2 separate regions of the Homo sapiens genome follow, and region 1 is linked to region 2. Evidence: fine-mapped expression QTL. A gene starts in region 2. The other region holds a variant in brackets. All regions are shown on one strand. Distances are from middle to middle.

Region 1 (3,006 bases), 20 kb before region 2:
CTTTGTGATGCGACAAACGGCCCAGCCTGGCCTCTTGTCCCCCAGCTCCCCTGTTACCACGTCGGGGGGGTGTCCCCTGGGGGAGGGCCAACCCCAGTGTGTCCACTCCTCCCCGGCCAAACTGGTCACCTCTGTCACCTCTGCTGCACCCGGCCCCTTCGTTGTCAGGTAAGGAGGGCCTGGAGCAGGGAGGGGCAGGGGCTGCTCCAGGAAGGGGTGAGGTGTGCTGGGGGGCCTGGTAGGGCCAGGCAGGAGGAGGGGCTCCTGGGCGGTGGCCCTGGAGGCAGGAGGCTCAGCTTGTGGACTCTGGGGTGCAGGTGGCCTGGGTGGGAACCTGGTGCTGTTGCTTGCCCGTCGTGTGATCTTGGGACAGTGCCATAACCTGTGAGCTGCCATCTCCCTGGCAGTAAAATGGCTCCTCGGGTCTCTTCCTCGCAGGGGTCCTGGGAGGTGAAGTGAGCCCCTCCACGGGAGGCCCTGGCACTCGCCCCACGTGCAGACCGCGCTCGATACACATCGCCCATAGTCATCAGGCCCCGGAACCGACCGCCACTCATGCCTATCTCAGCCAGGCTTGGGCGCTGTCCTCTGGTCACCAGCCCCTCGTTGATTCCCCACCCACTGCCATGCTGGGGCCTGGCCCCTTCATCCTGGTGGATGGGGGAGAGCGGACAGCAGGAGCAGGTCTCCCCAGCATGCCTCTTTGCGTCTACATCCTGTCATTCTCAGCTGGCTGTGGGTGGCACTCACCTGGGGGAGGCTTGGGTCCCCGGCAGAGGCCTAGCATTAGGTTTTCTGACCCTGAGTCTCATCTGTGAACGAGCTTGCCCAGGGGACTCTGTGTGCCCCACAGTGTGTGACTCAGAGAATAAACTACAGGCCCTCCAAGGACGCCCATGGCCACCCCCAGCCTGTCCCACCACAGAACGGCAGATGCTGCAGCCTCACCGGGCTTTTGGTTCCCGTGTTCAAGACCATCCCCTTCTCTGTCCAGCGAGCTCCATTCAGGGCTGAGCAAGAATGGCCTCCAGGATCCCACAAGGAAAGGCGGGGCTGCGGTTTGAACCCAGATCTCTCCAGACTGTTCCACTACAACCCATGGCTGCCCATGAGAACCACCTGGAAAGCTTTGGACAACACCGAAACCCAGTTCCCAACCCCAGACCGCAAGTAGAGTCCCTGGTCAGGGGCCCCACCCAGCCCTGTGATCCCAGCTCCACCAGCAGAGGCAGCAGATCGGGGGTCCAGGGCCTCAGTGCACTCCCATCCCCGTCGGGGTGCTCCGGCCCTGCTCCTCCACCCCTCAGCCCTGGCTCCCAGCACTCCAGACTCACACTTGGTTTTGGAGTCTTTGCCCAGGAGTAACCCCCAAACGTGTCCTGGTCCTTCC[T/C]ACGGTGGCAGGCACTGGGGAACCCTCAGCTCTGAGTGTGGGAACACGTGCTGGGACTTATCGGCGTGGTAGGTCCAGCCAGGTTTGAAGTTGGACAGGCCCACTCCCTGGAGAGACACCTGGTCCCATGCACACACAAAGGCCACGGAGCCTGTTAGGTGGAGGCTCCTGGGGCCTCAGCTGCTCCGACCTCACCTCAGGAGGCTCAGCCGCTCTGACCCCACCCCCGCCACTTCCTGGCAGGATGACCTTGGGAAGGCTGTTTTGCCTCAGTTTCCTCATCTGTAAAATGCCTAGAACGGCAGCTCCCTCATGAGGAGGCTGAGACACCCCACGGTGTAACACAGGAAAGATGCTGAGCTCTGCCGGTGTGGTGGGGAGCGATGAGTGCTCCAGAAACGGTCCCCACGCTCCACTGTGTGCCGGAGCCTCTGCACTTGGGCCACCGTTTCCTGCGCCTTCTGTAGGAGCAGCATGGCCTTGGCGCACGCTCGCCCTGCGTGAGCATGGTGTCACTCTCCTCCCGTGCCGTCTCTTTCCCATTTTAAACATCTCCAAGGTTGACAGCAAAGGCTTCTGGGGCTCCAGGGTCACAGCCAAGGGCAGATGAGATCAAGTACAGCCACACTGCCACCCTTGTTCCCTTCATTTTGTGAGACTTCGCCTCCGGCAAACACGAGGCCCAGAATGTTCCACCAGGGTAGCAGCAGGTGCCCAGCTTGGGGAGGGAAGAGGCGCCGAGCGACCCCCCCAGCCCCTGCCCTGCGCATGCCCCTTGTCTCCTCGATGCGCCTCCCCCACCTCTACAGGGCCGGCAGCTGTGCTGGAGCCCAGACCTGAAACTGGAAGGAAAGATGATCCTCCACAGACTTCTCATCAATCCTTTTGCCGGGGTTTAATCCCCCTGCAATTCCTCCTGAATGAGTTTCCTGTACCTGACATCACCAGTGACCACAAACTAAGTGGCTTAAAGCAACAGAAATGTACCCTCTCATCATCTGGAGCAGAAGTCAAAATTCAAGGCATCAGCAGGACCCCCGCCCTCTGGAGCTTCCAGGGAAGGATCTTCGTTGACTCCTCCGGCTTCAGGGGGCTCCAGGCGTCCCTTGGTTCTAACCGCTGCCTCTGTGGTCTTGTGGCCGCCTTCCCTGGGTCCTCAGATCCCCCCCTTGCATATAAGGACACTTGTCGTGGGATATGGGGCCCACCCTAAATCCAGGATGGTCTCATTCGAAGATCCCTAACTGAATGAATTCTGTAAAGACCCCTTTTCCAATCAAGGCCGCATTTACAGATTCCCGACACGTCACTGGGAAGCCACCATTTGGTCCTCAACATCCCGTCTCCTCCGCCCCCAGATGCGACGGCGTCTCAGCAGCGACTTGGAGCCATGCAGGGTTTCTGTTGTGGTTGTTCACTTGGGTAAGCTTCCTGCTCTTACCGACAGTGGATGACACACTCCCCACTCCCACGCCACTTCATGTTCCTTCGGGAGCGGAGGGGGTTGGAAGAATAAACACCCAGATCTTCAAGACGTAAAGTCCCTTGCAGAGAACCCAGACCGGCCCCCTTATTTATGGATGAGAATCCTGAAGCCCAGATTGTGGCTTTTGAAC
Region 2 (2,500 bases):
TTCCTCCTTCCTCCTTCTCTCCCTGCTTTCCTCCCTCCTTCCCTCCCTACTTCCCTCCCTCCCTGCCTTCCTCCCTCCTTCCCCCCCTGCTTCCCTCCCTACCTCCTTCCTTCCCTCCCTCCTTCCCTCCCTGCTTTCCTCCCTCCTTCCCTCCCTACTTCCCTCCCTCCCTGCCTTCCTCCCTCCTTCCCCCCCTGCTTCCCTCCCTCCCTGCCTCCCTTCTGTTTAACCGATGTTGAGTGCCTATGTGTCCTAAGCGCTGTTCTAGACACTGTGTAGAGCAGTCACGAATATACTTCCCTGCCCACACAGAGCTCACATTCTGGTTTGGGAAGAGAGACAATAAAATAATTCAGAAATAGGCCAGGTGTGGCATCTCACGCCTGTAATCCCAGCACTTTGGAAGGCTGAGGCGGGCGGATCATCTGAGGTCGGGAGTTCGAGACCAGCCTTGCCAACATGGTGAAACCCTATCTCTACCAAAAATACAAAATTAGCCGGGCGTGGTGGCACATGCCTGTAATCTCAGCTACTCAGGAGGCTGAGGCAGGGGAATCACTTGAGCCCGGGAGGCGTAGGTTGCAGTGAACCGAGATCGCGCCATTGCACCCCAGCCTGGGAAACAAGAGCGAAACTCCTTCTCAAAATAATAATAATTAAGAAACAGCAAGGTGTGGGGTGTGCAGTGCTACCCACATAAAACAGGAGAGAAGAGCCTGGGAGCAGGCTTCAAGTTCTAAGCATGGCAGACAAGAAGGATGTCATGTAAACCCTCACGGCCACTCTGGTAGAGACAATCTGTGACTTGGCCCCAGTTTTCAGATGAGGAAACTGAGGTGCGGGCCCTAAGGCAGCTTGCCAGAGCCCTGCAGCTGGGAAATGGCAAAGCTGGATTCGCAGCCCAGGCAGGCTGGTGCCAGAGGGCTTTTGGGGATTGGAGGGTGCAGTGAAATCCAGGTGGAATGCGGGAACTGGACGGGGTTTCGCCACTTAAAGGTACTGTTATTTTAACTGTGTGCGGGACAAAGCCATCTCCTCTTCGCTTATGGCAAAGGCCAGGCTGGCTCATTCAGAGGTCACTGGTTCCTCCTCCAGAGACTGAGCCCCAGGGATGGGGGTCTGGCTAGGGGGAGGTGGCTGGGAGGGAGCGCCACCCTAGGCCCCCTGGCAGGCCGCCCAGCAGGGGCCCTTTAAGGCTGGCCATGAGGCAGGCAGCGTGACACCCGCCCAGTGTGCAAGTTCATTCATCACGGGCCCCTGCTGACTCACGCTTATGAAAGTGATTTTCCTGGCCCCGCCCACTGCCTGCGCCGCCTCCTCCCTCCCCGTGAAATACCCTCACTTCCCTCTGGCCTCTCAGAGCCTCTTGGATCCCCACAGGGTAATGGGTGTCCCGATCTCGCGGGGGACTCTGTGATCCGTGTTCCCCTGACCCTCCTAGTGCACAACTTGGCCGGGCTCACTGGGCTCCTGCACCACTGCCTGTCAGGTGAGTGTCCGGGGCCAGGTTCCGGGGCAGGGAATCAGGCACATCCCAGGCACCCGTGGCAAGCCCAGCTGGACCGGAGGGTCTGCAGAGCCCTGGCGCCAGGCGGGGGTCCCGGGTGGTCCTGAGTGGAGGCCCTCGCCTGGGTTCTCTGGAGCCCGGCAGGATTCTCCCCTACACCAGGTTCCTCCCAGATCCTCAGCTGTGTCCCTGTCCAGGTGCCTGGTACCCTCAGCCAAGCAGCTGAAGCGGCCACAGTCCCAGCGTACCCTGGGCCATGTGACCGCCGCTCCTAGCAGGAAAGAGGGGTGTGGCCAGCCCGGGCTTACTGCCCAGCTGTTCCAAGGCCACTGGGTCGGCAGCCAGGCTGGGTGCCTTCTGGGTTTCTGCTTCTCCTGCTCAGGAGGGACAGAGCCCTTGGGTGCCCATGAACAGCCCCCATCCCTGGAGGTCCCAGCGACTTAGCTTCTCTCAGGAGGCTCAAGAGTGCGGCGGGTTGGGAGGGCGGCCCCTGGGAGGCTGGGGAGCTGCAGGAGACCCTGGGCTCCAGGTGTGCGGCACTGGGGCGAGGGCTCGTCTGTGATAAATGGCAAGTGCCGCTTGCGTGGACAGACCACCCCCTCACACTTTAGCGCCCCCAGGGCTTCGTGTCACTTTCTTGGTCTCCCTGTAATCAGCTGTTTTACTGGAGGGGACTTGGCAGAACTAAGATTTGTCACATGGCCGTGGTCTTGGACCCTCCTAGGTGACCTGGGGCAAGACGCCCACTCCTCCTGACCAGCTTTTCTTCCTCTGCACAATGGGGATAAGAACACCCACCTCCTGGGGTGTCTTCAAAGGCAAAGGAGTAAATGGCCACTAGAGGTGCCAAAGAAACGCAGACATACAGGTGTCCCAGAGTCTCAGAGCAGTTTGCAGCTTTAACAACCTCAGAAGTACAAATGCCGCACACTTGAAAGAAACGTCAGTCGAAGGTGCAACTGTTTTCATTTCTTTTATCCTGTTTGCCTTTGT

The links. PIP is the estimated chance that this variant, and not a neighbour inherited with it, causes the effect. A credible set is the group of variants that fine-mapping cannot tell apart.
Region 1: its variant is the best candidate, but not a certain one, in a credible set for the expression of OSGIN1 in testis (GTEx, PIP 0.66).

The regions. Positions count from the first base shown.
Region 1 is chr16:83,931,251-83,934,256 of GRCh38, forward strand. No RefSeq gene overlaps it. Among named protein-coding and RNA genes, the nearest start is that of OSGIN1, 20 kb to the right of the region's middle. The variant T/C (reference allele first, on the strand shown) is at 1,391.
Region 2 is chr16:83,951,882-83,954,381 of GRCh38, forward strand. OSGIN1 (oxidative stress induced growth inhibitor 1) reads left to right here and starts at 1,359. Exons shown (of 6, transcript NM_182981.3): 1 at 1,359-1,489. RefSeq lists a silencer at 1,634-1,683 and an enhancer at 2,172-2,500.